Linked DNA regions of Homo sapiens: region 2 is linked to region 1. The links come from fine-mapping of genetic effects on gene expression. A gene starts in region 1. The other region holds a variant in brackets. All regions are shown on one strand. Distances are from middle to middle. Region 1 holds the start of ZNF780B (zinc finger protein 780B). Region 2 overlaps ZNF780A (zinc finger protein 780A).

Evidence for each region.
Region 2: its variant is fine-mapped to the expression of ZNF780B in whole blood (TOPMed, PIP 0.98).

Annotation. Positions count from the first base shown.
Region 1 is chr19:40,047,794-40,064,797 of GRCh38, forward strand. It overlaps ZNF780B (zinc finger protein 780B), which reads right to left and starts at 8,438. Exons shown (of 5, transcript NM_001005851.3): 1 at 8,396-8,438; 2 at 2,531-2,584; 3 at 877-1,003. The coding sequence starts at 2,539. RefSeq lists an enhancer at 8,298-8,427.
Region 2 is chr19:40,069,946-40,086,949 of GRCh38, forward strand. It overlaps ZNF780A (zinc finger protein 780A), which reads right to left. Exons shown (of 6, transcript NM_001142578.2): 3 at 14,800-14,853; 4 at 13,166-13,292; 5 at 11,874-11,969; 6 at 3,100-6,264. The coding sequence starts at 14,808. The coding sequence ends at 4,571. Among named protein-coding and RNA genes, the nearest start is that of ZNF780A, 12 kb to the right of the region's middle. The variant G/A (reference allele first, on the strand shown) is at 7,317.

The DNA of each region.
Region 1 (17,004 bases):
TGTCCTTCAGTTTTCCCAACTCTAAAACAGAAATATAATAATGCCTGTTTTATAGGATTGATACTAATATTAAATAAGGTAATATATGTAAAATACTTCTAACTCTCACTCATACGTAGTAGCACAAAGTTAAAAATTATTATGTTTATTGTCATTATTTATTTTGCATCCTTAGACATTTACAGCTCATTTTAAGAATTTTCACCCAACAGAAAAGCATACACTTCATGGCCTGAAACTTTCAACTACAAAACAAGTAACGGAAGGTCTGTCGAAGGAAATGGAATATACTGACTTAGTGCTAAATAAGTTCTGTCAACCCAATCAGTATATGTAAATCATTGAGGCTCTGTTTTGTTTTGTTTTTTTGAGACAGTGTCTTGCTCTGTTGCCCAGGCTGAAGTACAGTGGCATGACCACGGCTCTCTGCAGCCTTGACCTCCCAGGTTCAAGCAATCATAGAGGCTCTTTTAATAGAAAAACTCAACACACTCTTCTCCTTACAGGTGGGCCAGAAAAACAAAAACAAACAAAGAAAATCTACAGTAATTCTGAGATCAAACATAATATGAAACCTGGTTCTTGAACAATATCATTCAACGAATATACAAGATTTCAAATTCAGCCCCATGGTCATGAAGAGAGAGAGGGGATTACAGAGATGACCAGCATAATGGAGGAGGCCCTGGTGCAGTAGGCAAGATGCAGAGGCTCCAAGGAGGTGCCTGTTTTCAACCCAACAAATCTCAATCCATTCCTTCGGGAATAAGAAGAAGGAATCCAACTACCTCTTAAAAGACAGCCCTGAAACTCATGATGAAGAAAGCTGATATTCCAGAGAACAGATACAAAAATAACTGGGACCAATGACCTTACCCAGTGATATCAGGTGGCTGTAGTTCTCCAACATCACATCCCTGTACAAGGTCCTCTGATCAGGCTGCAGGCACTCCCACTCCTCCTGAGAGAAGTCAATGGCCACATCCCTGAATGTCACTGATCCCTGAAACCACAAACACATGGATTATGGTGAAATTGAAGAAAGTTGTTTCAAGACGAAAGGAGAGGAAGTGAAGGATTAAACTGCAATAAAGGAGCAATATGGAAAATCGCAGAGTGCCTACACATTCTTCAAGAATCCTGCTGCTGGCCTGGTGTGGTGGCTCATGCCTGTTATACCAGCACTTTGGGAGACCAAGGTGGAAGGACTGCTTGAGCCCAGGAGTTGGCAAACAGCCTGGGCAACATAACGAGATGCACTCCCTGGAAAAAAAAAAAAAAGAAAGAAAGAAAGAACTGTCGTGGTGGCATGTGCCTATAGTCCCAGCTACTTGGGAAGCTGAGGTGGGAGTATTGCTTGAGCCTGGGAGTTCAATGCTGCAGCGAAGTGTGATGGCACTACTGCACTCCAGCCTGGGCTACAGAGTGAGACCCTATCTCAAAAAAAAAAAAAAAAAAAAAAAAAAGGTGGCAGCATACAATTGAGGAATGCCGTTAATCCTCAAGCTTACTGTGGTATCAGATGATAGCAAAAGTATTTTTTCTTGTCATGACAAATGATTTTTATAAGCTGCGTAAAATTCAAAATAACTGACATATTAGATTTAGTCATATTTTTCTATTTATACATTTAAGATGGTCAGAGTCTCTAAGGTTTTCCCAAATTCAGAGAATCTGTAATCACCTACCACTCATGCCCTGAATAATCTCTGTTACTGCCCACTGTCCTCACTGATCACTTTCCTAAAAGCCTCATAAAGCAGAACACCTTGTCACGCTTGCAGACTGAGGCCACTCACTATGGAATTCTACCTCAGCTACCTAGAAAGCTCCAGTCTGTGGAGGAGTTTCAAGGTGTTCCCGAGTGTGGTCAAATGCGACAATCATCTGTAACTTATCAAACCCACAAGACCATGTTTCCCTGTGGGGACCAACTCCTCCACTGTTCCAACATTCTTTCTGACCAAGGACTGAGTTAAGCACAGACTGAATAACCTGCTCAAAGAAAACATCAAAGCCAGTGGGAAAACAGAGGTACGAATAGGAAGAGCACTGACTTTTATTTTTTGGTCACCAAACTTCACTGTAATGGGACAAAGTGGGGTGTAAGATTGTGGATCCTGGCCAGGCACAGTGGCTCACGCCTGTAATCCCAGCACTGTGGGAGGCCAAGGCAGGGGGATCATGAGGTCAGGAGATCGAGACCATCCTGGCTAATATGGTGAAATCCCATCTCTACCAAAAATACAAAAAATTAGCCAGGCGTGCTGGTGGGTGCCTGTAGTCCCAGCTACTCGGGAGTCTGAGGCAGGAGAATTGCTTGAACCTGGGAGGCGGAAGTTGCAATGAGCCAAGATCGCACCACTGCATTCCAGCCTGGGTGACAGAGCAAGACTCCGTCTCAAAAAAAAAAAAAAAAAAAAAAAAAAATCGTGGATCCTTACGTAAGAAGGTTCAGGTTTAATAATAACAGTCACCTAACCTAACCTGAAAGTCACCATATTTCAAGAAGACAGAAACACCAACTTACATGGACCATGTTTCTAGAATTACAAAATTGGTCAATCTTCCTCGGGCTTCTCCCCTGGAAAACAACAACAACAAAAAGGCCCTAAGTCAAGCTGTGTCCGAAAGCACTAGAACGAATAAATATTTTATCCTCCATTCCTATTTCTCAACTACTCCTGCTCACACGCACACTTCCACCCTTCTCCCGTCACTCCCTTTTTCCCTACACACACTCTCACAAATAAACTGGCAGTGAACAGGTGGAGTGTGGATGAAACCAAGCTCTCGCCTACATCCCAGGGAACCTGCGGCGGAAGCATGAATGCCGAGCACAGGCATTTCTGCCTTGAAGTTGTGGCTTCCAGCCAGTCCTCCACTCTTGGGATACCAATCTTGGCCTAGGACTGGGCCTCTGATCCTGCTGTAAGCAATCCTCCTCCCCTAGTCCACCTTTCAGAGCTGAGAAGGGCTTGCATCATCCAATCCAGAACCTCTTTGTGAACTCAGGATTGGGTGCAGTGGGGCAAGGCATGAGAACTGGAAAGGATATAGACAGAATTGCATGGGCAGTGTTCAGCATTCTGAGTTCACCAAAAGCCAGCTGGGGTAAGTACAGTTCAGAATAGCCATGTAATAGAATACAAAGTAATCATTAATTGTTCCAGACATATGATTAACAGAAAAATCAGGTTACAAAGCAGGATAAACAATACGATTACATTTGTAAAATATATGTATATAGAAATATTAAGCAAAAGACTAATAGACATCAATACAAAAATTTAGACAGGTATATGCATGCTAACAGTGCTTATCTCTGTATTGTAGCCCCAATTTTCTTCTTTTTGCTAAAGAGTATGTCATAATTGTGACTATGCCCAGGCATTTAACTTAGAATATATAATTATATTCACACACACACACACACACACATATATACACACATATACACATGTGTATGTATCTATATATGTACATATTTAAATGTACATACACATTTTTTTTCTTGCGAGGAAATTGTTCTCCAAATTAGATGAAAGACATCTTTTATTTAGACATTTTCCTTTCAACGTGGGGACAAAAAAAGGAAACTCTACTGAGCTCTTGTTTTTATGTAATAAATTTGTTTCCATTATTTCCCAATTCTTGACCAACACTAAGATGTCTATGTTTTTCTATGTATGTTAGTACAATTTCTAAAAAAAATTGTCTACAAGTCTTCAACTAATTTCTTGTATGCATTAATGATGGTCATATTTCTACATCCGAATTCAAAAATAAAAATAAAACAGAGTTAACAGAGAGTGAGTACTTTTAATCATAAAAAACAAAAAACTGTGCCTGTCATGAGGATCAAAAAGATTAATGTGACTATAACAAATAACATCAGCTAGTTCTGACATCCTTTAGCTGTATCTCACCAATATAATTAGACATTTTCATTATCAAGACTCTTCTCTGAATGAACACAATGCAGATAAGTGGCATCTGGAAACTACATGAGAAAATCTGTGGAATGTACATCACCATGCTTGGTTCCCTTCTTCACCAAATAACTCATTAAAATATCATTTTGGATACAATTCCTACAGAATGCCTTACAAAAACCCTATCTTAGTATATGGGATTCATATACATGTAACATTTTCTTGAGTATCATTGTTCATAGCATGAATACTGCTTAATGGTATATCAAATATTTTTCTTTTCATAATTCTTTATAGACATCATTTTATTAGCTGCATAATACTTTATCACTTGAGTCTAGTATAATTTGCTTAGTGATTTCCATATTACAGGACACTTGATTTATATAAGATCATTTACAGTGTCATTCCAGGTATCACAATCTTTTGATTCTAGACTAAGGTTTTTCACCCTAGGCACTAATGACATATTGTGCTGTATAATCCTTTGTTGGGGCTATAGGGAGGGTTATCCTGTGCACGGTACAATGTTCAGCAGTATCCCTGACCTCTATCCACTAGATCTAAGTAGCACCTCCCCCATGGTGTGACAACCAAAAGTTTTTAAACATCACCCCCGCTGAGAATCAATGTTCTATCTAGATCAATGGATCCAAACCTCATGGGTCACATACAGTTTTGATAGTCTTATGAAATGATATACTATTTCTCCCTCTAAAACCCACATTGATAAATTTCCATAGTACTTCAATACATTATTTCAAGAGCTTTGTGGTCCCCAAGACCATACGTGGAGTTACAAGAACTCAGATTAAGAATTTCAGTCCTACATTCTTGACAAAAATAGAAAAAAAAAAATCCTAAAATGTGCATAGAACCACAAAAGACCCAAATAGCCAAAGCAGTCTGGAGCAAAAAGAACAAAGTTGGAGGCATCAAACTACCTGACTTCAATATATACTACAAAGCTATAGTAACCAAAACAGCATGATACTGACATAAAAACAGACACCTAGACAAACGGAACAGAATAGAGAGCCCCAGAATAAATCCATATGTTTACAACCAACTGATTTTTGAGACAGGTGCCAAGAACATACAATAAGGAAAAGACAGTCTCTTCAATACATACTGTTGTGAAAACTGGGGAGTCATACACAGAAGAATGAAATTAGACCCTTTTCTCAAACCATTATACAAAAATCAACTCTAAATGGATTAAAGATTTAAATGTAAGATCCCAAACTATGAAACAAATAGAAAAAAACGTACGGGGAAAGCTTCATGACATTGATCTGGGCAATAATTTTTTTTTCTAGAAATGACTTCAAAAGCACAGGCAATAAAAGCAAACATAGACAAATGAAATTACATCAAGCTAAAAAAGCTTCTGCACAGCAAAGTGAAGAGACTACCTACAGAATGAGAGAAAATATTTGCAGTCATGTATCTAATAAGGGGTTAATATCCAAAACGTGTGAGGAACTCAACAGCAAGAAAACAACCCAATTAAAAAATGGGCAAAGGACCTGATAAACACATCTCAAAAGACGACATATAAATGGCTACAGTATATGAAAAAATACTCAACATTACTAATCATCAGGGAAATGAAAATTAAACCTACAATAAGATATCACCTCATATGTGTTGGGGTGGCTATTGAAAAGACATAAGTTAACAAATGTTGGTGAGAATGTAGAGAAATGTGAACCATTGCACACTGTTGGTGAGAATGTAAAGTGACACAGACATTATGGAAAACAGCATGGAGGTTCCTCAAAAAATTAGAAATAGAACCACCATATGATCCAGCAATCTACTACTGGATATTTATCCAAAGGAAATGAAATCTGTATACCAAAGAGACACCTGCACACCCATGTTTATTGCAGCACTATTCACAATAGCCAAGATATGGAATCAATCTAACTGTCTATCAATGAATGGATAAAGAAAATGTGGTATATATGCAGGTATATATACACAATGGAAAACTAGCCATAAAAAAAGGGAAATGCTGTCATTCGCAACAACATGGATGAACCTGGAGAAATTCATATTAAGTAAGCCAAGCACAGAAAGGCAGATGATCTCACTCATCAGTGGAATCTGAAAAATGTTCATATAGGCCAGGTGCGGTGGCTCACACTTGTAATCCCAGCACTTTCGAAAGCGGAGGCGAAGGCCGAGGCAGGCGGATCACCTAAGGTCCAGAGTTCGAGACCACCCTGGCCAACATGGCAAAACCCTGTCTCTACTAAAAATACAAAAATAAGCTGGGTGTGGTGGCATGCACCTGTAGTCCCAGCTACTCGGAAGGCTGGGGCAGGAGAATTACTTGAACCCGGGAGGCAGAGGTTGCAGTGAACCGAGATCACGCCACTGCACTCCAGCCTGGGCAACAGAGTAAGACACTCTCTCTCAAAAAAAGAAAACACTTGATATCATAGAATTAGAGAAGAGAATGGTGTTTACAGGTCGGGGGTAATGTGGGTGAGGGAGGGAAGATGGTGTTGGCTGGGGAAATGTTGGTCAAAGGATATAAAATTTCAGGAAGATAAGAGAAATAAGCTCAAGAAATCTATTACACAACAACGTATCTACTATTAATAACTACTATTAATAACTATTCTGTAGTGCTAAGAGAGTGGATATTAAGTGTTCTCACCACAAAAATGATAACTATGTGAGGTAATGCATTGCTAATTAGCTAGATTTAGTCATTCCACAATGTACATATACTATAAAACATCATGTTGCACACGATAAATACATACAATTTTATCTGTCAATTTAAAAAGAACTTCTGTCCTAGATCATTTGAGCAACTCACTCATTTTCTTACTATGCAAGCAGCAATCACAATGAATCACATATTCCCAATGCTCCTGTCCTATAGAAAGTCAAGGGAAATGACCTAAAATGACCACACGAAAACAAAAGCTAAAACATTAAACATTTATTATTATATGCCTAGCACTGCTCTAAGAGGTTTTAGAGTATTAATTCATTCTAATGTTCATTACAAGCCTGAGAAGACCAGAAACGGACAGAACAAACATTCCAACCCAGATACTCTGGATCCACTCCCCTATTCTTAACCGCAACAGCGTACTGCCTCTCACAGTTCACACAAATAGCCCAAAATGCAACCGGAACTGCCGAATCTCACAGAGATCTGGCAAGTATTACAATTATCATCTCATGGACTCTCCCGAAAAATCCTGACTCTGGTTGATACCAATTTCTGTGCAATCACTTTCCGATTCCTGAAAGCCTCACAGACGAATGGAAATCACCCAACCATCTCCATTCTTCCCTACTTGGAAAAGGAGGCCTGTAAAGAGTCAGAAACCTGGCGTGTGATTCCACAAACTAATCTTCTTTTCAAAGCAGAGTCTAAAATAAAGCTTTAATATAAACCTCTGGAGGACTATTTTTATACCAGCTTAGAAGAAGAGAGCGTACAGGAAGGTGTGAACGATTTGCCAAATGGCTCTGTGAATATTAAATGGCAAGGTGGGGAGCGGGCGGGGTGGGGAACGGCTCGCTGGGAGGCGGCACAATGGGAGGGGGCAAGAATCAATTTGCATATTCTCCTGAAATTCACTAAAAATTTACAGGAACCTCTATATTCTAAAATCAAAAACGCATTTCTTGAACAAATACAAAGCACAAACTCACCCTTGACTTAAGTGTGCAACAATAACGCTCTCATCCTCCTCTCGGTCCTTCTTTTGGATAATAATACGACTGGAGAAGGATACGGCAAGCGTGAGACTCCAGGCTTTTCTTGGAGCGCAGACTAAGTTTGAAAGCACCCTCCATGGCCACAACTTCCCTCACTTCGTACGAAATGAGAAGGAAATAAAAGGAGGAGGAATCGGTCTGAGTTCGAAGCTGGTTCCTGGGGACAGATCTCTGAGGGACGCTGGGTTCTCAACATGTAGCTGCCCTCCTGGGGGACCCTCAAGAGGCACTTCCAGCTCTCATATTCCCACCCCGAGTCCAGATCTGCGCCTTCTTGTGCAAAGCTTCATTCTCGGTTCAATATCTAACCTCCCTACTGGGGACATTTTCATTCCTCTGCTGCAGCCTCTGCAGCTTTGAAGGGGAAAGACGGAGGAAGCAGCAGGAGCCTAGTACCACCGGCACAGTGACACTCACACAGCCCCAGCAAAACGCACTGCGTCCACACGCCGTCCCGGTCCTGTGCACAGGGCCTCACGCACACACTCACACAGTCCCCTCCGTCACTCAAGATCGCGCAATCCCCATCCTTTGATGCCCGCGCACACGCACGCCTAAGGATCTGGCAGATTCCGTCTGCGCCCCGGGTTCCTCCTCTGAGCGCCTCGCTCTCGCCCACCCGCACTGCCGGGTCGGTCAGGTTCGAGTCCCAGTCCACGAAGACCTCCCGCAGCCACCGATTTCTTCCTAGGACGTGAAGACCTTACCCAGCTAGGTCGTCAACCCCAGGAGACAGGAAGTGGAACCGCTAATTCCGGTGCGGTGGCCTCTGGGAAATACAGTCCTGAGCAGAAAGAACCTCAGAAGTCTTGGTCTATGGTCTGTTCAGGTTGATCCCAGCATACATTGGGGGCTCCTAAGGGACCCGAGCCTAATGGATTTGTGGGAGTTCCAGACCGTGGGGTGCAGAGGTTGCGGCCACGGGCGAGAATCCCCATCTGAGAGGAGCGTTGCTGTTTTCGGTGCGTCAGGGTAAATTACCTTTTCTCTCTATGCAAAAGAATGCAAATGAGCAGAACTTTTAAAGAAGAATTTAAAGTAAAATTACGTCAAAATGTAGCTGCTTTGACCTCTTCGTCTCAGATCCGAGCATAGGCTTCCCCTTTGTGCTATTTGAAGGGACTTAGGATAAATTTGAAAAGCCTGAACTAAAGAAATGGTTGGAGAGACTCCGTCTCAAAAAAAAAAAAAAAAAGAAAGAAAGAAAGAAAAGGAATCGTTGGTTTTATACTAGAAGAGGAAGTGTGGTTTACATGAGAGATTTCAGAATCAAATATACTTGATTCTTCAAGACAATCTTCCTGTTATCTGGAGAGAAAAACGTGATTCAGGACGGCATGGAAACAGATAAAAGTACACAGAGAATTACTTGCCTTATCTTGAAGGATGAATAATTAACACATTTTCTTAAAACAGTCTAAATAAATGCCAAAGGGGGTTTGTTTTTCGTAGGAAAAGCTTGATTTCACTGTTGTAATCTAGCAACATTGAACTTTCAAAATGATTTTTGTAGTTTCCTATGCTATATAAAGCGGAAACGTGGAATAATGAAGAGCAAAATGTCTTTTCATTCCCGACTGTGACAGAAAACAGATAGCAAGATAACAAACTTAATTGGATCAATGATCACATTAAGTGTAACTGGTCTAACACCTTAACTTAAGAAGGTTGTCAGGTTGGATTTTTTTTTTAAAAGTCAGACCCAAATACGTGCTACCTACAGGTAATACTTAAAATATAAAAGCACTAATAGGTTAAAAGTAAAAGGATGGAAAAATATATAAAATCCTAACACTAGTCAAAAGAAAGCTGGAGTGGCTATATTAAAAACAAAGTGACTTCACCAAAAAGACTATATCAGGGATAAAGAAAGTTACATCATCATAATGATGAAGGATACAGTTCATCCAGTGGAAAGAACAAACCTAAATTATGCTCTTAATACAGCTTCTAAGTATGTGAGTAAAAACCTGTTAGATCAATAAAGTAACAGACAAATCCACAATTATAATCAGATATTTCAACATATCTCTCTTGGTAATTGATAGAACTAATGCAGAAAAGCAACAGGGTATAGATTATCTAAACAACATATCAACCTGCTTGATCTCATTTACACTTCTGGAACACTCTTCTCAAAGACAGTAAAATTCATCTTAGGTGGACAGGAGACACTTTCCAGCGTATACCATATTCTGGGCCATAAAGCAAGTCTCCATAAATGAGTAAATGGACTCAAGTCATACAAAGAATGTTTTTGACAAAAATGGAATTAAATTAGAAATCAATAACAGCTCACTATATATTGTCCAAAGTAGTAAAAATTTGAAAATGTATGAATACTATGATAATTGAAATTATATAATGTTTGAAAATTTCCTTTATGAGTCATAATTTTCTGTTATATCCTAAAGGGTAAACAATAACATATTTGCATTAAAACAAAATAATGTTTTTGTAGTAAGGAAAAAATTTTAAGCTATCTATATTGACTATGCATTAAAGAGCAGAATAATTATTTTTGGTATATATTCCAATGCTTTAATCAATTTCTTAGCCAGTATCACCATATTTTTAAGGATTTTTTTTGACACAGTCTATTATTTTTAAATTTTGATAAAATTGTATGTAATCCTCAATGCTGGACTTTATGGTTAATAAACTTGAAATTATAGCTACCTTCAAATGGCGCTTCTCTGAACACCATACCTTTTAAATTGAGATATATACTCTGCATATACTAAGGTAATCAGAAGTCTTAGAATATAGCCAATGAAATGGAAAATATCCTCATGAGTATTGTGAATATGGAATATTAGATTGCAAATATTTTAGCAGTTGATGTATTTTGCCTTCACAGTACATTTCTACTTTTTTTTTTGCCACTTAGTCTAGGAAGGGTACATTTATTTAAAAATTATTCCTAAAGCCAAACAAATTGGCTCAATTTATGATACCTTTGAATGTTAAGCCAAATTTAGGTGTTACGGAAACATAAACCTTCTCAATTGCATTCCATTCTAACACAAATTGTAAATGTATCCAGTTAGAAATGGGAGCACCATCAAAAGACTACTGCCATAGCTGAAGAAAGTCCTATGCAAAATTGAAGAATTTCAAAATTAAATCCTGTATATAATACGTTAGTTCATGACTTTATTTATTCAGTTTCTTCCTTAATTTGTAGGACTAAATCCCATTGTCTTCATGTTGGCAAGTTCTGATAACTGAAATTCTGTTGAATTTCTATACTGAATAGGAGTAAGGATAGATGATATCACTGTTTTGTGCCAAATCAACAGAATCTTAAACAACCAAAGGGTTAAAGAACAAATAAAAAGAGAATTTAGAAAACATTTTAGATAAATACAAATTTACTAAAGTTCATGAGATGCTTACTGCTCAGGGAAAAATTTATAGCTCTACATGCCTATAAAAAGGAGGAAAGATGTCAAATCAATGACCTAACTGTATACACTTAGGAATTAGAATATGAAAAATAGAAAAAAAAAAAAAGCAAAACCAGGAGAAGAAAGGAAATAATAAAGATAAAAGTGAGGTTAGATTAAATAGAAAATAGAAAAATAATAGAGAAAACTTACAAAATTAAAAGCTGGTTCTTTGAAAAGATCAAAAAAAGTGGCAAAACTGTAGCAGGACTGAACAAGAAAAAAGAGAAAACATCAAAATTACTAAAGTCAGAGCTGAAAGTGGAGACATTACTAAACTTACAAAAATGAAAATGATGATAGAAGAAAATTATAAACAATTGTATGTCAACAAAATAACCTAAATGGAAAGGAAAAAGTCCTAGAAACACACAAACTATCACTGACTCAAGAAAAAATAGAAAATCTTAACAGGAGTGATGTCAGCAAGATAGAAGAATGGGACTTTCCAGCACTTAGCTCTCACAGAAACATCAATTTAAACGTATATCTATGCATGAACAAACTTTCACAGGAGCTAAAGAATCCAAGTAGCTCACTCAGAGGGGATGGGAATGAAGCAGCTAGTAGACAACTGTCTCTGAGACAGCAAAAATGTTGGATTTAGCAAAGATCTGAAAGCAGCTATTTTAATTATGTTCAAAGAACTAAAACAAGCCATATGTAAAGAATTTAAAGAAGAGTATGACAATAATACCCTGCCAGAGACTATCGACAGAGAGATGGAAATTATTACTGCAATGAAAGAACCAAGTAGAAATTCTAGAGTTGAAAAGCACAATAACTGAAATGAAAAATTCACTAGAAGAACTCATAGCAGATTTAACCTGAAAAAAGAATTAGTGAACTTGAAAATAGGTCAAGTCAATAAAATTATGCAGTCTGAAGAACAGAAAGAAAAACAGAAGGAATAAAAATGAAGAAAGCATCAGAGGCATGTAGTACACCATCAAGCAAACCAACATACATATAAGAGGAGGGTCAGAAGGAAAGAAAAAGAAAAAATGCTTGAAAAATAATGGCCAAACTCTCTGTGAAGTTGATCACACACATGCACACACACCTACATTTACAAGAATGTGAACACACTCCAAGTGGGATAAACCCAGATATTAATACTTAATCAACATGTCTCAAGGAGAGCTACCCCAGAGTCAAATTGTCAGAAGCCAAGAACAAAGGGAAATCTTGAAAACAGCAAGGGAAACATTATTCATCATATAAACGAGATTCTCAACAGGACTACTGGCTGACTTCTCATCAGAAACAACAGAGAACAAAAGGCAGTGGGATGAGATTCAAAGTACTAAAACAAACAAAAACAAAAAACAAAACAAAACAAAACAAAAACAAATAAAACCCTACCAGTCAACCAAGAATTCTATATCCAGAATATTCTCTCTCAAAATATAGATAAAATAAAGAGAATTGCAGATAAGGACTGAAAGCCTTTGTTGCTAGCAGACTTTCCTAATAAGAAATATTAAAGTTCTTTAGAATGAAGGTGATGGTCACTGGAATCCACACAAAGAAATAATGAGCACTGATTAAAGTCATTACATAGGTAAATAAAAGATAATATACACTTTTACTTTTTTATTTTAACTGATTAAAGATAACTGCATAAAACCATAATTATACAATTGTATTATTTTGTTCATAATGTATAAAGTTGTAATTTGTGTCACATTCATATTACTATGATAGCACAAAGGAAGGGAGCTATATTGGAGTAAACTTTCTGTATACTATTGATATTATTTTATTTATTTTGATTTTTAAAATTTTATTTCTAATTTTTTGTAGAGACAGGGTCTCACTATATTGCCCAGGCTGGTCGTGAACTCCTGGGCTCAGGCAATCCTTCCACCTCAGCCTCCCAGAGTGCTGGGATTACAGGTGTGAGCCACCATGCCTGACGACTACTGTTATTATTTTAGCAATAATCTCAATTAGATTTTTTTAAGCTAAGATATACATTAGTTCTTTTTAAAAGCTGAAAACAGACGGAAAACAAAAGGATGGAAAAAGATACAAATAGATACCATACAAATGGTGATCAGAAGAGAATAGGAATGGTTATACTACCATCAGACAAAACAGGCTTTCAAAATGTTACTAAAGAAAAAGAGATTTATTTAATGATAAAAGGGCAAGTTAATTAGAAAAATATAACTACAATGAACGTATATGCTCCTAAAAACAGGAGACTACATACATGAAAGGAAAACTGACAAAACTGAAGAGAGAAAATGACAGCTCAACAATAGAAGGTGGAGATTTTAACACTCTATTCTCAATACATACAACAACTAGACAGAAAATCTGCAAGGATATAGAAGACTTAAACAACACTACAAACTAGTTTGTCTTAACTGATGGTTGGTTGAACACTCAACCAACAATAAAATACATACTCAACATGCAACATTTTCTAAACTAAACAATATACTAGACTTATATATGGCAAATCATAATATTTTTTATAAGTAAGTCATGCTAAGTATATTCTCTGACCACAGTGAAAATAAAATTAGAAATCAAACACTGAGGAAATTTGGGAAATGTAAAAATATTTTGAAATTATTCAACACATTGTTAAATACCCCATGGATCAAAGAATAAATTATAAGAGAAATTAGGATGTATTTTTTATTTTACTTCCTAAAAATAGAGATGAGAATCTCACTATGTTGATCAGGCTGGTCTCAAACTCCTGGCCTCAAGCAACCCTCCCATCTTGGCCTCCCAAAATGCTGGGATTACCGGCATGAACCATCGCACCTTGCCTAGAATGTATTTTTAATAAAAACAAAAACAATCCAAATTTTTGGAGCAGCTAAATATGTTTTTATTTTTAGCTTTAAATGCCTATAGTGCTAGAAAAGAATAAAGATGTAAAATCATTTGGTAGACTTCACCAGTGAAACCATGTAGTCTTTGGCTTTTCTTTGTTAGGAGGTATTAGATTGCTATTCATTCTTCTTACTGGTCATAGGTATATTCAGATTTTCTATTTCTTCATTATTGAGTCTTAGAAAGGTGTGTGTTTCTAGAAACTTTTCCATTTTGTCTAGGTTATCAAATTTATTGGAATACCGTTGTAAAAAGTACTCTTGAATAATGCTTTTTATTAGTATACAGTTGGTAGGAATGGAATGTTCCCTGTTTCATTTCTGATCCTAGTTATTTCAGTCTTCCTCTCTTAATCAATCTGCCTAATGGTTCTCAATTTTGTTGAGCTTTTCAAATAACCAACTCTTAGTTTTACTAATTTTCTCTATTTTTTATTCTCTAATATGTTAATCTCAAGCCTAATATTTTCATTTCCTTCCTTCTACTAGCTTCAGATTTAGTTTCTTCTTCTTTTCTAGTTTCTAATGGCATAAAGTTAGGGGGCTGACTTGAAATCTTTCTTCTTTTTTAATGTAAACACTAACAGCTATAAAATTCCCTTAACACTGCTTTTGCTGCATCCCATAAATTTGGTATGTTGTGTTTTCATTTTCATTTACCTCATTTTCATTTGTTTTGATTTCTTCTTTGATCCACTAGTTTAGAGTGTGCTTAGTTTTCATATACTTGTGGATTTTACAGTTTTACTTATGCTATTGAATTCTAGTTTCAATATTTTAACATTATGACTTCTTCTGTGGCCTAAGACATAGTTTATCCTGGATAATAATCCACATGCACTTGAGGAAAATGTGCACTCTGCTATTGTTGAGTGGAAATGTTATGTATATATGTGTGTTAGGTCCAATTGGTTCAAGTCCCCTATTTCCTTATTTATCTTCTGTCCTGTTCCTCTACATATTATTAAAAGTAGTGTATTGAAGTCTCCTACTATTATTGCATAGATGTCTATTTCTTCCTTCAATTCTGTCAATGTGTCCTTCATATATTTTGGAGCTCAGGTGTTTAGTGTATATGTATTTGTAATTGATATATCTTCTTGGTAAGTTGACCCTTTTATTATATATTCTTTGTCTCTTCTAACCTTTTTTAACTTATAGTATATTTTGTCTGATATTAATACAGCCATGCCCACTCTTTTTAATTGCTGTTTGCATGAAATATCTTTTTTCTTCTTTTCACTTTCTTTTTGTTTGTTTTTTAGACGGAGTCTCGCTCTGTCACCCAGGCTGGAGTGCAGTGACACGATCTCGGCTCACTGCAAGCTCCGCCTCCTGGGTTCACGCCATTCTCCTGCCTCAGCCTCCTAAGTAGCTGGGATTACAGGCGCCCGCCACCAAGCCCGACTAAGTTTTTGTATTTTCAGTAGAGACGGGGTTTCTCCATGTTGGTCAGGTTGGTCTAAAACTCCTGACCTCAGGTGATCCGCCCGCCTCGGCCTCCCAAAGTGCTGGGATTACAGGCGTGAGCCACTGCGCCCGGCCCATCTTTTCACTTTCAAACTATGTGTGTCCTTAGATCTAAAGTGACTTTCTTATAGATAGCATTTAGTTGGATCTCGTTCATTTATCGTCTCCCAATCTATGTCTTTTGATTGCCAAGTTTGATCCGTTTACATTTAAAGTAACTATTGATAAGGAATGACTTATTTTTGCCATGTTGTTTTTTTCTATAGTTCACCCAGTCCCACATTTCTTTTCTTACTGCCTTCCTCTGTGTTGATTTTCTATAATAACACATTTAAATTTTTTATTCATTGTATTTTTGTTATTTTCTTAATGGCTGCTGTAGGGTTTATTATATACATCTTAGAATCAGCTTCAGAATAATACTAACTTGATCCCAGTGAGATATATAAATGTTATTTATATAGTTCTAATCTATCCTACTTTTCAATTCTATTATTGTTCTACATTATTATGTCTACACATGCTACAGACTCAAAAATACATTATTATACTTATTCTGTATAGGTTTATGTCTATTAAGGATGGAATAGAGTATATATATATTTATATGGTATTTTTGATATATAGCTTTTTATTTACTATTTCTACTTCTTTTTATTTGTTCCTATGAATTCTAGTTACTATCGCGTATCATTTCTTTACTCCAATACAACTCTGCTGTCATTTACTTCCTTTATGCTGCTATTGTCAAATATATTACATTTCCATGTCATATGGCCAATAATACAATTATGTACATATTATACAATTGCTTTTTAAATCTATTAAGAGAAAAAAGTAAAAGAAATGTGCATTTATGCTGCCTTTTATAATTACCATTTTGTGTGTGTGAGACACAGAGTCTCACTTTGCTGCCCAGGCTGGAGTGAAGTGGCATGATCTCAGCTCACTGTAACCTCTGCCTCCTGGTTTCAAGCGATTCTCCTGCCTCACCTTCCGAGTAGTTGGGACTACAGGTGCACACCACCATGCCCAGATAATTTTTGTATTTTTAGTAGAGACGGGGTTTTGCCATGTTGGCCAGGCTGGTCTTGAACTCCCAACCTCAGGCAATCTGCCCGCCTTAGCCTCTCAAAGTGCTGAGATACCAGGCATGAGCCACTATGCCTGGCTATAATTACCTTTAATTATAAATATTAATTTTGTTCTTTTTAAAAATGTGATTTTAAATTTTCATGTGTTTTACTTGCTTTCAGTATTAATAACTTTTTTTTTTTTTTTTTACAATTTCTCATATGGCAGATCTGGGAGGGCTTTGTTTCACCTTTTTTTTGAAGGCAGCATTACTAGAAATAAGATCATGGTTCACAAAGCTTTTGTCCTTTGAGTACTTTGAATGTATCATCCCACTGCCTTCATCCCCTCCATTGTTTCTGATGAGAAGTTTGCTGTTAATCTATTGGGGTACCCTTGTGGCACATTGTTTTTCTCTTACAGCTTTCAACATTTCCTTTCACTTTTAACATTTTTACTATGACGTGT
Region 2 (17,004 bases), 22 kb after region 1:
GGCTACTCGTAACTCCTATGAATCAGGTAAAAGGAGGGCCAAATAAAAATCAGTGCTAGGGAGTGAAGGTCAGACTCACAAACCAAATAAATGAAATATTCAATACATTTCACAATAAGAAAATACCCCAATGTCCTAATGAAAAAGAATAAAAACACATACTCGATCCTCTTCTCCTAGGAGATGAAATATATTGTTTTAAAAATGAGTTACTCCAATAAGATATGAATAAGCAATATATAAATATATAATAAACATAACAGACCAGTTAGATATATAATAGACAACAGATTAAATACTGCTGACTAAGCACAACTTAAGGGGATTATATAATTAAATGTATCCAAAAAAACCATTATTGAATTGACCTGTCACTTTCTAATACATCTTTGTTACTAAAAATTTAAGCAACTTAGTAACCATGACTCTGGGTCATCTGATATCATAATGTGGTTCAAGGTCCACCAATCTTCTGTTTCTTTGATTGTATTTCCTTGTTTCAGGACAGGTAAAAATGTTAATATCATAATAAAGACCAAACTGTCCAATTACCAAAACTGTGAAGCAGCAACAATGTCAAAGAATTACAAATAAAAGGAATAAGAATTTTTTGAAAAGCAACTAAAATTGAGAAAATTCTTTTTATAAGTGAATTCAGTATGTTCACTGAGCTTGTAAGCAAGGAAATAGTCTATGGATGCCTTCTCTGCTTTTAAAAGTAGTAGGTGATTTTTAAATTTTTACATAATTGGTTTGTAACTTTAGCAAATATTTTAAAGTGTTTTATTATGTTTGCAAAGGGACTGTGACTTCCAACTTAGAAATCCCAAGATTGCATGATGATAGAGTTTCACTGGAAGGCCTCCTGGGATCTCTTTTTTATGACAATTCTTAATGAGATACCAGAATGTGCAATGACCCATAAAGGAGTTGTGCTGGGTTAATACCCAGGGAATCTGTTGAGTTCAAAAAAGAAAGTCAAAGAGAATCAATATGAAAAAGATGAAAGTGGAAATAAAAAATAGGAACATGAGACTAGAAAGCCAGGTTTTAAATAGCCTCGTTTTGTAAGATTTATAAGATCACTGCATTAACAAAACCTGAAAAATGTTTAGAAAATTATAACTTTACCTATGATTATAGATACAATTAAATGTTAAGAAATAGAATTAAGTAGTCTATCAAAAGCATAATAATCTGATAAGGATATATTCACAAAAAGAAGAAAGCTATCAATATAAATTATCATTTTATAGATTTTTAAATGCACTGGAATAAAATCACAAAGGATTATTATTGATCTTTAAAAAAGTTAATCTCTCTAATTCATGATGCCACAATGGTATCATGTTTTATAGCTTGATTTAAAGGCTTAATTTTTTTCAAAGTTTATCAACAGCTCACATACCAGCCATGATGTATAGGTGCTGATGATAAATGCTGAACAAAAACAAGGTTCCAGACAAAATAATCTTGGCTCCCTGAATAAACTAGAGGGTGCTAATTTTGTACTGAATATACTGTCAGCCTTATCACACAAGTTGACTTATGTTGACAACCTTAATGGCATTCATTTTTGAATAGTCTATTTCAATTTTCATTTTGTATTCAATCCACAGCTAAAATACACATGATTATAAATATTCAGAGGTCAAAGTCTCTCCATAGATTATTTATGCACTACAAATTAGATCTTTACAATGGACTTATGGCGGTTACCAGCTTACCCAAATGATCAAACTTAGTTTCACTAATGCAAGGACCTGTACTTAAATGTTTTCTGACAGTGAAATATGCCATACAAATAGCCTACAAAGTATTCTTCCCCAAAATGTTTAATCTGACCTAACAGAGCCTCTGGACTCAAATTCCCTTGTACAGAATATGCAACAAAGAGAACAACACTAAATGACACTATAAAGAAAGAAATCTAAACACATAGACAATTTTCCTGGGCTAATCAAAATTCAATCTCATTTTTTAAGAATGAGGAGATGGACCAGGCCTTTTCAAAACTATCAAGCAGATAGTCAGGGCCTGTGAAGTGTGCCAAAGAAATAATCCCCTGCACTGCAGGCCATACATTTCAATCTCTGTATCTTTAACCTCCTTGTTAAGTTTGTCTTTTCCAGAATCGAAGCTGTAAAGCCACAACTCATTCTTCAAATGGAGCCCCAGATGCAGTCCATGACTAAAATCTACCGCGGACCCCTGGACCGGCCTGCTAGCCCATGCTCCAATGTTAATGACATCGAAGGCACCCCTCCAGAGGAAATCTCAACTGCACAACCCCTACTACACCCCAATTCAGCAGGAAGCAATTAGAGCAGTTGTTGGCCAACCTCCCCAACAGCACTTGGGTTTTCCTGTTGAGAGGGGGTACTGAGAAACAGGACTAGCAGGATTTCCTAGGCCGATTAAGAATCCCTAAGCCTAGATGGGAAGTTGACCACATCCACCTTTAAACACGGGGCTTGCAACTCAGCTCACACCCGACCCATCAGGTAAGAAAGAGAGCCCGCTAAAATGCTAATTAGGCAAAAACAGGAGGTAAAGAAATAGCCAATCATCTATTGCCTGAGAGCACAGCGGGAGGGACAATGATCAGGATATAAACCCAGGCATTCGAGCCGGCAACGACTACCCTCTTTGGGTCCCCTCCCTTTGTATGGGAGCTCTGTTTTCACTCTATTAAATCTTGCAACTGCAAAAAAAAAAAAAAAAAGAAGAATGAGGAGAAAGGAGAAATGTTCTAGGTCAGTGGCTCTCTAACTCTGGTTGGTATCACAATCACCTGGAGAAATAATAAAAAACATAGAGGCCCAGAATTATAAGCTAGGGCTTAAGCCTCTGTAGCTTTACTAAGTGCCACTGTTGATTCTAATACCTACCAAAATTTGAGCGCCTACATTCATAGGATTTCCAGGCTACAATACACTAAAGAGAGATAACCAAATGCAATGCAGATTCTGCAATGGATTCTCCTTTGAATATGAATAGCTGTAAAAGATGGTTTGGAAGCCAATGAAGAAATCTGAAAATGGAATGATATTACAGAATTATGAATACTTTCCTTAACGGTAATTATGGTACAATGGCTATATGATATTGTCTATATTGTCTTCATGTTTGGTTGATACACACGTTGATTAAATAAAGGGTAAAGTGTCATGATGTCTAAAACTTATTCTCAATGGTACAACAAATATACAAAAAATAAACGTGCAAATTGTTAACAATTTTGAATCTAGGTTGGGGTATATGATTGTATATTTGACTATTCTTTCAAAACCCACAACAAGTATCAACTAGGTTTACCATCTTTTATGGGCAGAATTTGTGGTATCCCAAAGCAATTACAATAGCAACATCAAAAATCACTGGTCATTGATCACCATGATAGATATATAACAATGAAATAGTTTGAAATATTCTGAGAATTACCAAAATGTGACATAAAGACATGAAATGCACACCTGACGTTGGGAAAATGGACCTGATCGTCTTGCTCACCACAGGGTTGCCACAAACCTTCAGTTTGTATAAAACACAATAACTGCAATGCACAATTCAGCGAGGTATGCCTGTATCTGGTAAATTATTTCATAGGGAGTACATTGTGAACATGACAACTACCCTATATTCCTCATTCAAAGACTTTCTCACAAGAATTATCTTCTCCGAACTCTAAGGTATTTAGTGTGGCTATAAAACGCCCCACATTCCTTACACTCAAAGATTTCTCAGAAGTATGAATACTCAGAAGTTGAGCAAATCCCAGGCCATGATGAAAGTTCTTCACACATTCTTTTATGTTCACAAGATTTCTCATCAATATGAGCTCTCTGGTGTTGAGTAAATTTTTCGTACACAGTGAAGGCTTGTCCACACTCCTTATTGTCACAAAATTTCTAACTATTCTGAATTTTCTGATGTTGAGACAGCTGATCATCCACAGCAAATGCTTTCCCATATTCCTTACATTATAGCGTTTCTCACCAGTATGAATTTTAACATGTTGAACAATGTTTGAGCTACAACTAAAGGTCTTCCCACATTCTGTACATTCACAGGGTTTCATACCAGTATGAATTCTTTGATGTGCAGTCAGGACCAAACTAAATCTGAAAGTTTTCCCACACTCCTTACATTCATAGAGTTTCTCACCAGTATGAATACTCTGATGTTGAACAAGGTTTGAGCCACTATTGAAGGCCTTCCCACATTTCTCAAATTCAAATGGCTTCTCGCCAGTATGAATGACCTGAAGTCCAGCAAGCTGTGTCAGAAAACTGAAGGCCTTTCCACATTCTTTACATTCAAAGGGTTTTTTACCAGTGTGAATTTGGTAATGTTAAATAAGTGGTAATGATATCTAAAGGTCGTCCTCCACTCCTTGCATACAAAGAGTTTCTCACTGGAATGAATTTTCTGATGCTGAATAACGTTTGAACCACAAATGAAGCCTTTCCCACACCCCTTACATTCACATGGTTTTACACCAGCACGAATACTCTGATGTTGAACATGGTTTGAGACACGATTAAAGGACTTTCCACATTCCTTACATTCAAGATGCCTTCTCACCTGTGTGAATGTTCTTATGGCGATTAAGCTGGGTGGGAAGACTAAAAACCTTTCCACATTCCTTACATTCAAAGGGTTTCTCACCAGTATGCAATTTCTGATGTCGAATAAGTTGCATATGAAGTCGAAAGGCTTTCCCACACTCCTTACATTCAAAGGGTTTCTCACCAGTATGCAATTTCTGATGTCGAATAAGGTGCATATGAAGTCGAAAGGCTTTCCCACATTCCTTACATTCAAAGGGTTTCTTTCCAGTATGAATACTTCGATGTTGATTAAGATTTGAACCACGACGAAAGAATTTCCCACATTCCTTACATTCAAATGGTTTTTCACCTGTGTGAGTTTTCTGATGTTGGGAAAGTTGTAGGTAAAGTCTAAAAGCCTTCCCACACTCCTTACATTCATAGGGCTTCTCACCAGTGTGAATACTCTGATGTTGAACAAGGCTTGAGCCACGATTGAAGGCCTTCCCACAGTCTTGACATTCAAATGGCTTGTCACCAGTATGAATTCGAGAATGTTCAATAAGTTGGCAATGATATCTAAAGGCCATCTCACATTCCCTACATACAAAAGGTTTCTCATTGGAATGAATTTTCTGATGCTGAATAAGGTGTGCACCACGATTAAAGCCTTTCCCACACTCCTTACATTCATATGGTTTTATACCAGCATGAATACTCTGATGTTGAACAAGGTTTGAGCTACGATTAAAGGACTTCCCACATTCCTTACATTCAAACGGTTTTTCACCTGTGTGAATGTTCTTATGGCGATTAAGCTGGTTGAGAAGACTAAAGGCCTTCCCACATTCCCTGCATTCAAAGGGTTTCTCACCAGTATGAATCTTCTGATGTCGAACAAGCTTTGTCAGAAGAGTAAACGCCTTTCCACATTCTTTACATTCAAAGGGTTTCTCACCAGTATGAATTTGGCAATGTTCAATAAGTTGGTAATGATATCGAAAGGCCATCCCACATTCCTTACATACAAAGGGTTTCTCATTGGAATGAATTTTCTGATGCTGAATAAGGTGTGCACCACGATTAAAGCCTTTCCCACACTCCTTACATTCATATGGTTTTACACCAGAATGAATACTCTGATGTTGAACAAGGTTTGAGCTACGATTAAAGGACTTCCCACATTCCTTACATTCAAACAGTTTCTCACCTGTGTGAATGTTCTTATGGCGATTAAGCAGGGTAAGAAGACTAAAGGCCTTTCCACATTCGTTACATTCAAAAGGTTTCTCACCAGTATGAAATTTCTGATGTCGAGTAAATTGTATGTGAAGTCGAAAGGCTTTCCCACACTCCTTACATTCAAAGGGTTTCTCTCCAGTATGAATACTCTGATGCTGAATAAGATTTGCACTACGACTAAAGTATTTCCCACATTCCTTACATTCATACGGTTTATGTGTATTGCAAATAAGAGAAGCATGAGGAGTATGAGTAGGCAGTTTTTCATAGCTGATCATCTTTTGATTGATATTTCCTTCTTGATATCCCTGTAGTCCCTCAAATTGTCTATATTCTGAGTCATTTCTAAAATAAAAGGCCTCAATGCCAAGAGTTGTACTTATTTGCTTTATAACCTGTTTGGGTAAATTTACTTCAGAGGTATCATTTTCTGGAGATACTTTCTCAGGTCCATATTTTAACTCCAAATCTGAAAGAAATGAAGAAAGCAAACCTATTTTATTTTCGTATAACACACATGCATACAAAGTCCTTTTGTCAACTGAAACCATCAATTCAAACCAATAAAACCTTTATTGATTTTATTAGCCAAAACCAACAAAGTTGGTAGATAGAACCTTTCTCATATCACTTCTGTTTCCAGTGGAAGCAAATGCACATCTGAGCCAGCCTGGTTATGTACATGTAAAAATAGGAAAATGAACCACAGAAGATTGAACCTAACTAGGTCAACTATCTGTTGAAACATATTGATATGTTCTATAGGACTTAAGACCATGAGACCCATAGTTTCATAGTCAGTAATTAGAATGTCCAGGATACAATCCAAATATACTGGCATATACAAGAAAATTTCAACTCACATTGGAAAAGAAAATCAACAGCAGCATTCTGCCAGGGGCCTGGGGATCACCCCACCCCTGCTTACCACAAGAACCAGCACGTACAACTGGGGGGCCTAAGGTCAGGTCCAGCAGACCCAGCTCTGTGCCCAAGTCCCCAAGCACACCATCTGGGGACCTGGGGATCACCCTGATCCATCTACCACCTTTGCTACCTAAGCACTCATCACAGAGGCCTAAGGTCAGACACATACAACCTGCTGTTTCCTCCACAACTGGTACCCACCTGTACTCACAACCGGAAGTTCTGGGGACTGGCCCACCCAGCCCATCATAGTCACCTCCAACACTAAGCACTTACTGCTTGGGAGCCAGAAGGTTGTCCTGTTCACTACTACTACCATCACCCATGCCACACTTGCTGCCCAAGAATCCAAGAACCCATCCACCTACCCAGCATACCACTACCACTGCCAGCACTATCCAAACTACGAGGAGGCCAAAGAATCAACGTGCCTAGACACACTAATACTAGTACCAGCATACACTATGCTGGGGCCCCAAAACAGGCACATCTGGACTGCCACTGCCACCACCAGAGCCCAAGGACTTGCCTACCTTGTGTCCTCGTGCTAGGCCATTCTTGCATTAAAGGAATACCTGAGACTGGGTAATTTAC[G/A]AAAAAATGAGTATTAACTGGCTCATGGTTCTGCAGGTTGTACATGGCGCTAGCATCTTCTCAGCTTCTGGGGAGGCTTTAGGGGCCTTTTACTCATAAAAGAAGGCAACACAGGACAAAGAATGTCACACAGCAAGAGAAGGAACAAGAGAGAGAACAAGAAGAAGTGCCATATACTTTTAAACAACCAGGTCTTGCAAGAACTCACTTACTATTGTGAGGACAGCACCAAGGGGATGGTGCTAAGCCATTCATGAGAAATCCACCCCTATGATCCAATTACCTCCCACCAGGCCCCATCTCCAACACTGGGGATTACATTTCAACATGAGATTTAGAGGGGAAAATATCTAAACTATATCACTCCTCATCCCCAATAAAACTTCACCATACCCTCCACTAACCATCACAACCAAAGCCAAGGAAGAAATCACAGACACCAAAGGCACTGTTTACAGCCAAAAAAAAAATCATAACACTACATAACAACACTACTGCACACGCCCAGAATCAAAGCGAAAATGCCCTATCCAACCCTATTAACCATAGGTACATCTTTAGGAAAAAAGCCTCCCCTACAAAAGCAAATTCAAAAAAATGAGAATAAACACAGGAAATAACAAAAAAAAAAAAAAGAGAAGGAAACTTGACATCTCCACAGGAACATAATAATTCTCCAGAAACATTCCAATGGGAGAAAAATGCTATATCCTAGCAAAAGAATTCAAAATAATTATATTAAAGAAGCTAAGTGAGATACAAGAGAATTCGGAAGAACAATACAAACAAATCAGAAAAAAAAAACTCAGGATAAGAAGAAGAAACTTACCAATTTCATTATAAAAAAGAACCAAACAGAAATTCTGAAACTGAATAATTCATTGAATAAAATATAAAATACATTCAAAATCTTCAACAACAGACTAGATCAAGTAGAAGAATCTCAGAACATAAAGCCAATTCTTTTGAAATAACCCAGTCAGACAAAAATAGAAAAACAAAAAAAGAAGAAGAAACAAAGACCCTATATGGGACATCATAAAACAACCAAATATTTGAAATTTTGAGGTCCCAGAGATGAAGAGAAAAAATAAAGGAAAGAAAATCTATTTAATGAAATAACAGCTGGCAACTTTCCAATTCTAGCAAGAGATGTAGACATCCAGATACAGGAAGCTCAGAGATACCCAAATACATAACAACACAAAAAGGTCTTCTCCATGGCACATTATGGTCAAAATATAAAAGTCAAAGACAAAGAGAGAATACTAAAAACAGGAAGAGAAAAGCATCTAGTCACTTACAAGGGAACTCTCATTAGCCGAACAGCAGATTTCTCAACAGAAAGAAATGAGAGAGAATGAAATGGTATATTCAAAATGTTGAAAGAAAAAACTTGCCAGTCAAGGATACTATCCTCAGCAAATTATAAAACATAAATGAAGAAGAAATAATCTTTCCCAGGCAAAAGCTGAGGGCAGACCAGCTCTACAAGATATGCTTAAGAGTCCTACACCTAGAAGTGAAAGAATATCTGCCATTGTGAAAACACACAAAATTATAAAACCCACTGACACAGCAAACACAAATAAGCAGAAAGAACCCAAATGTTACCCCTATAGAAAACAACCAAACCACAATGATGAAAAATAAAAGAGAAAGAAAGGAACAAAGGATACACAAATCAACTAGAAATCAATTAATAAAATGACAAGAATAAGCCCTCACATATCAGTAATCACATTGAACGTAAATGGATTAAACTTTTCATCTAAAAGATATAGATGGAATGGATTTTTTAAAAAGTGACCCAATTATATGCTGCCAACAGACTCATCTCACTGGTAAAGACATATATGGATTGAAAGTAAAGGAATGGTAAAAGATATTCCATGCAAATGGAAACCAAAAGTGAGCAGGAATAGCTATATTTATATCAGACAAAAAAGATTTTAAGTCAAAAGCAGCAAAAAAGAGACAAAGAAGATCACTGTATAATGATAAAGGGATCAATTCAGCAAGCGGATATAACAATTCTAAACATACTATAATCCCAACACCAGAACACCCAGATATATAAGGTGAATATTATTAGATCAAAAGGGAGAGAGATGTATTCCAGTGCAATAATCATTGGGGATTTCAACACCCCACTCTGAATTACACAGATCATCTAGATAGAAAATTAACAAGAAACATTGGATTTAAACTTCACATTAGACAAAACAGGCCTAACAGACATTTACTGAACATTTCATCAAATAGCTACAAAATACACATTTTCTCATTAGCACACAGAACATTCTCTAGGATAGACCATATGTTAGGATGCAATTCTTAACAAATTCTTCAAAACCAAAATTATATCAAGTCTTTTCTCAGACATGGAATAGAATGAGAAATCAGTAACAAGAGGAACTTTGGAAACTGTACAACACATGAAAATTAAACAACCTGCTCCTATATAACCACTGGGTCAAGAAAGAACATAAGGAGGAAATTAAAAAATTTCTTGAAACAAATGAAAATCAGAATACAACATACCAAAACCTATGGGATACAGCAAAAGTACTGCTAAGAGCAAAGTTGATGGCAATAAACACCTACATTGAAAAAGCAGAAAGATTTCAAATAAACGATCTAATGAAATTAGGGCAGAACTAAATAAAATACAGGCTAAATAATACAAAAGATCAATGAAATGAAAGGTTGTTTTTTAAAAAACATAAATAAAATTAATAAACCACTAGCTAGACTAACCAAGAAGAAAAGAGAAGAAATAAGCAAAATCAGAAATAAAAAAAGGAGATATTACCACTGACACCACAGAAACAGAAAAGATCATCAAAATAGAAAAGCTGAACAGGCCAATGAGTAATGAGATTGAATTAGTAATAAAATGTCACCCAAAAAAGAAAACTCCAGGACTGATGGCTTCACTGCTGAATTCTATCTACCAAACTCTCAAAGAACTAATTCTCCTCAAACTATTCCAAAAAATTTCAGAGAAGGGAATTCTCCTTAACTCTTTCTATGGAGCTGGCATACCATGAAACCAAAACCAGACAAGGAAGAAACAAAAAAAGAAAATAGTTCTAGCCTAAAGTCACATGAATGCCTATGTTTATTGTAGCACTATTCATAATAGCAAAGACATGGAATCAACCTAAATGTCCATCAATGGTTACCTGGATAAAGAAAATGTGGTACATATACACCAAGGAATACTATGCAACCATAAAAAAGAACAAGATTATGTGCAGCAATATGGATGGCATTGGATGCCATTATCCTAAGCAAATTAATTAAGGAACAGAAAACCAAATACTACATATTCTCACTTATAAATGGGAGCTAAACACCGAGTACACATGGACACAAAGAACAGAAAAACAGACATCAGGGCCTACTTGAGAGTAGAGGGTGGGAGGACGAAGATCCAAAAACTACCTATTGGGTACTATGCTTATTACCGGGGTGGTGAAATAATCTGCACACCAAACCCACCACAACATGCAATTTACCCATATAAAAAACCCACTTATGTACCCCTTGGACCTAAAATAAAAGTTGGAAAATAAATTAAAAATAAATAAATAAATGGTGCTGGAAAACTGGATATCCGTATGTGATAGAATGAAACCAGACCCCTATTTCTCACCGTATACAAAAATCAACTGGAAATGGATTAAAGACTTAAATGTAAGACTCAAAACTATAAAACAACTAAAAGAAAACATAAAGGAAGTGCTTCAGGACATTGACCTAGGCAAAAATTTTCTGGTTAACACTGCAAAAGCATAGGCGGCAAAAACAAAAATAGACAAATGGGACTATATTAAACTAAACGCTTCTGCAGAGCAAAGGAAACTATCATCGGAGGGAATAGACAAAATTAAATGAGAGAAATTATTTGCAAACTATTTCTCTGACAAGAGACTCAAATAACAGGAAAAAAAAAAAAAATCCAATTAAAAAGTTGGCAAATGGGCTGGGCACGATGGCTCACACCTGTAATCCCAGGGCTTTGGGAGGCCGAGGCGGGCAGATCATCTGAGGTCAGGAGTTCAGGAACAACCTGGCCAACATGGTGAAACCCCATCTCTACTAAAAATACAAAAATTAGCCAGGTGTGGAGGTGGGCACCCGTCATCCCAGCTACTTGAGAAGCTGAGGCATGAGAATTGCTTGAACCCAACAGACAGAGGTTGCAGTGAGCCAAGATCAGATTACTGCACTCCACACTGCAGGACAGAGCAAGATTCCACCTTAAAAAAAAAAAAAAAGTTTACCCTGGGAAAAAAAGAGGGAACTTACTCCACTAAAAGGGGAAGGAAATAAGAGAACAGAAATTAGGTGATTAGTAAATGATGAAGTTCCTTGGTGATGGCTTCTGCTGTAATCTTTATTTCCTTCCCAGGTCTTGGGCATTTTTATCCAACAGGACTTGGGTCACTGAAGAAAGCTTTTCAAACCACATCTCAAGTGTATGACTCCTTTCTGAGCACATGTCCAGGACAATGATGGCTTCCCCCCGCCTGCTTTACCCTCACTTACCTGGATACCGTCTGCTTGTTTCTTTCCTTACAACCATCCAGGGCTCTTTCTCTTGCTCTAGTAACGTAATTACATCTGGTTTAGAAATGGAACTTCCTGCTTAAAAGAAACGACACATGTAGAATTTTTTTAATACAGATTTTTTTTTTTCAAATCTTTGTGACCTGCTTAAACTTACAATAAATTACAAGTCAAAACAATATTGAAAAGAGACTTCAGATAAGAGTGAGAGGTTGAGTAAGAGAACTCTTTTCTAACTATGTTAGAAAAGGACTTCCTTTCATTTAAACTCAGAATCTTATCCCTTGAAAAGAGGTATAACTGAATGGTTGAGAGCAGGAAACTTCAATCCAGACTGCCAGGTTCAAATCCTATCTCTGCTACTCACTAGCAGTATGACCTCAGGTAAGTCACTTAAACTCTGTCCTTCAGTTTTCCCAACTCTAAAATGGGGATGATACAATACCTATTTTATAGGATTGATACTAAGACAAAATAAGTTATATATATGCAAAATACTTCTAACATTGCCTGATGTACAGTAGCACAAAGTCAAGAATTATTGTTTATTATTGTCATTTATTTTGCATCCTTAGACATTTATAGCTCACTCAGTATATTCACTAAATGAAAATACATAAACTCCATGGTCTGAAACTTTCAACTGCAAAACAATGGAATGTTTATTGAAGGAAATGAAATGCATTCCCTTTAGTGTTAAATGAATTTCTGTCAACCCAATCAGTATACGTAAATAACAGACATTTTTGTTTGTTTGTTTTTGGTTTTGAGACAGGGTCTCGGTCTATTGCCCAGGCTGGAGTGCAGTGATGGGTACAGCTCACTGCAGCCTCAACCTCCCAGTGATCATAGAGGTTTCTCTGATAGAAAAATTCAAGACACTCTTCTCCTTACAGATGGGTTAGAAAAACAAAAACAAACCAACAAACAGAAAATCTACAGTAATTCTGAGATCAAACATAATATGAAATCTGGTTCTTAGACAATATCTTTCAATGAATGTACAAGATTTCAAATTCAGCCCCATGGTCATGAAGAGAGAGGCAATTACAGAGAGGACCAGCGTAACGAAGGAGGCCATTGTGGAGTAGGCAAGATGCAGGGGCTCCAGGGAGGTGCCTGTTTTCAACCCAACAAATCCCAATCCATTCCTTTGGGAACAAGAAGAAGGAATTCAGCCACCTCTTAAAAGATAGCCCTGAAATTCACGGTGAAGAAAGCTGATATTCCAGAAAATAGATATAAAAATAGCTGGGACTCAACGACCTTACCCAGTGAGATCAGGTGGCTGTAGTTCTCCAACATCACATCCCTGTACAAGGTCCTCTGATCAGGCTGCAGGCACTCCCACTCCTCCTGAGAGAAGTCAATGGCCACATCCCTGAATGTCACTGATCCCTGAAACCACAAACACATGTATAATGGTGAAACTGAAGAAAGTTGTTTTAAGATGAAAGGAGAGGAAGTGAAGGAGTGTAGTGTAAGAAAAAAGCAATATGGAAATTCACAGAGTGCCTGCACATTCTTCAAGAAGTCTCCTGCTGGCTGAGTATGGTGGCTTATGCCTATAGTCCCAGCACTTTGGGAGGCAGAGATAGGAGGATTGCTTGAGCCTAGAAATTTGAGACCAGCCTGGGCAACATAATGATATCCCATCTCTGCAAAAATTAAATAAGTAACTGTGTGTGGTATCACGTACCTGTAGTCCCAGCTACTCGGGAGGCTGAGGTAGGAGTATTGCTTGAGCCCAGGAGTTCAAGGCTATAGTGAACTGTGATCACGCCACTGCACTCCAGCCTGGGCCACAGAGCAAGACTCTGTCTCAGAGAAAAAAAAAAAAAAAAAAAAAGGTGGCATACAATTAAAGAATGTTCTTAATCCTCAAGTTCATTATGGTATGAGATGACAGCAAAAGTATTTTTTCTTGTCATGACAACTGATTTTTATAAGCTGCATTAAAGTCAATAGAACTCACATATTAGATTTATTCATTTTTTTTCTATTTATACGTTGAGGATGGCCAGGGCCTCTAAGGATTTCCCCAATTCTGAGAATTTTTTATTTTTTATTTTTTTTCTGAGACAGAATTTCACTCTGTTACCCAGGCTGGAGTGCAGTGGCACGATCGCAGCTCACTGCAACCTCCACCTCCCAGGTTCAAGCGATTCTCCTGCCTCAGCCTCCTGTGCAGCTGGGATTACAGGTGCGCACCACCACAACAGGCTAATTTTTTTTTTTCTTTTTTTAGAAGAGATGGGGTTTCACCATGTTGGCCAGGCTGGTCTCAAACTCCTGACCTCAAGTGATCCACCACCCACCTCGGCCTCCCAAAGTGCTGGGATTGCACGCGTGAGCCACCATGTCCAGCCAGAGAATCTGTAATCACCTATCATTCATGCCCTGAATTATCTTCTCCCTGCTACTGCCCACTGTCCTCACCTATCATTTTCCTAAAAGCCTCATAAAGCAGATCACCTTGTCACACTTGCAGACTGAGGCTACTCACTATGGAATTCTACCTTAGCTACCTGGAAAGCTCTAGTCTGTAAAGTTTCAAAGTGTTCCCAAGTGTGGTCAATCATCTGTAACTTATCAAACCCATAAGACCCTGTTTCCCTGTGGGGACTGATTCCTCCACTGTTCCAATATTCTTCCTGACCAAGGTCTGAGCACAGAGCACAGACTGAATAACTTTTTCAAAGAAAACATCAAAGCCAGTAGGAAACAGAGGTACAAATAGGAAGAGCAGTGACTTTTTTTTTTTTTGTCACCAACCTTCACTGTAATGGGACAAACTGGGGTGTAAGATCGTGAATTCTAGGTACGAAGCTTCAGGTTAAATAATAACAGTCACCTAACCTGAAAGTCACCATATTTCAAGGAAAAGAGAGAAATACAAACTTACATGGACCATGTTGCTAGAATTACAAAACTGGTCAATCTTCCTCGGGCTTCTCCCCTGGAAAACAACAACAACAAAAAGGCCACAATTAAAGCTGTGTCTCAAAAGCAAATAACTATTTTATCCTCCGTTCCTATTTCTCAACTACTCCTGCTAACACGCACACTTCCACCCTTCTCCCATCACTCCCCTTGCCCCCACACACACTCTCTCACAAATAGCTGGCAGTGAACGGGTGGAGTAGGGATGAAACCAAGCTCTCGCCTGCATCCCAGGGAACCTGCGGCAGAAGCATGAATGCCGAGCACAGGCATTTCTGCCTTGAAGTTGTGGCTTCCAGCCAGTCCTCCATTCTTGGGATACCTATCTTGGCCTAGGTCTGGACCTCTGATCCTGCCCTTAGCAGATCCTCCTCCCCCAGTCCCACCTTTCAGAGCTGAGAAGGGATTGCATCATCCAAACCAGAACCTCTTTGTGAAATCAGGATTGGGTGCAGTGGGGGAAGGCATGAGAACTGGAAAGCATATTTGCACTGGCAGTGTTTGCACCAAATTGCACTGACAGTGTTCAGCATTCTAAATTCAGCAAAAGCCAGTTGGTTAATACAGTTCAGAACATCCACTTAATAGAATACAAAGTAAATATTAAACGTTCAAGATATATGATTAACAGAAAAATCAGGTTACAAAACAGGATAGATAATATGATTACATTTGTAAAATATATGTATATAGAAATACTAATAAAAAGACTAACAGACATTAATAGAAAAAAATTTAGAAAATTATATACATGTTAAGAGTTCTCCTCTGTGTATTGTAGCTCCAATTTTCTTCTTTTTGCTTAAGAGCATTTCATGGCCGGGCACGGTGGCTCACACTTGTAATCCCAGCACTTTGGGAGGCTGAGGCAGGCAGATCACGAGGTCAGGAGATCGAGACCAACCTGGCCAACATGGTGATACCTCGTCTCTACTAAAAATACAAAAATTAGCTGGGTGTGGTGGTGCATGCCTATAATCCCAGCTACTCAGGAGGCTGAGGCATGAGAATCGCTTGAACCCAGGAGGCGGAGGTTGCAGTAAGCTGAGATCGTGCCACTGCACTCCAGCCTGGCAACAGAGCGAGCCTTCATATAAAAAAAAATTGTAACTACATCCAAGCATTAACTTGGAATATATATAGTTATATTCACACACACACACACGTGTGTGTATATATATATGTGTGTGTGTATATATATATTTATATATATATATGTGTGTGTGTGTGTGTATGCATCTCTATATATGGACATATATAAATGTACATACACATTTCTTTCCTATGAGGAAACTTCTCCAAATTAGATGAAAGACACTTTTTATTTAGATATCTCCCTTTGAACTTGGGGTGGGAAATCAGCATACTCTAATGAACTGTTGTTTTTACTTAACAAGTTTGTTTCCTTTATTTTCCAATTCTTGACCAACACTAAGATGTCTATGTTTTTCTATGTATGTTGGAGCAATCTCTAGAAAAAATTGTCTACAAGTCCCCAACCAATGTCTTGTATGCATTAATGATAGTCTATTTCTACTTTTGAAGTAAAAAATAAAAACAGAGTTATCAGGAAAAAAACCTGAGCCTGTCACGAGATTCAACAAAAGAGGTTAAAGTGACTACAACAAATAACATCAGCTAGTTCTAATATCCTTTAGCTGTATCTCACCAATATAATTAGATATTCTCATTATCAAGATTCTTCTTTGAATGAACACAATGCAGATAAGTGGCATTTGCAAACTATGTGAGAAAATTTGTGAAATATACACCACCATGCTTGGTTCCCTTCTTCACCAAATAACCAATTAAAATATTATTTTAGATATAATTCTTATAGAATGCCTTCAGATAGAATTCTTATAGAATTCTTATACAAAAACCCTATCTTAGTATATGGGATTCATATAAAACATAACAATTTCTTTTTGGGGGGCAGGGGTGGAGTCTCACTCTGTCACCCAGGCTGGAGTGCTGTGGCCTGATCTCGGCTCACTGCAACCTCAGCCTCCCAGGTTCAAACAATTCTCCTGCCTCAGCCTCCTGAGTAGCTGGGATTATAGGCGCCTGCCACCACTCCCGGCTAGTTTTTATATTTTTAGTAGAGACAAGGTTTCACCACGTTGGCAAGGCTGGTCTCAAACTCCTGACCTCAAATGATCTGCCT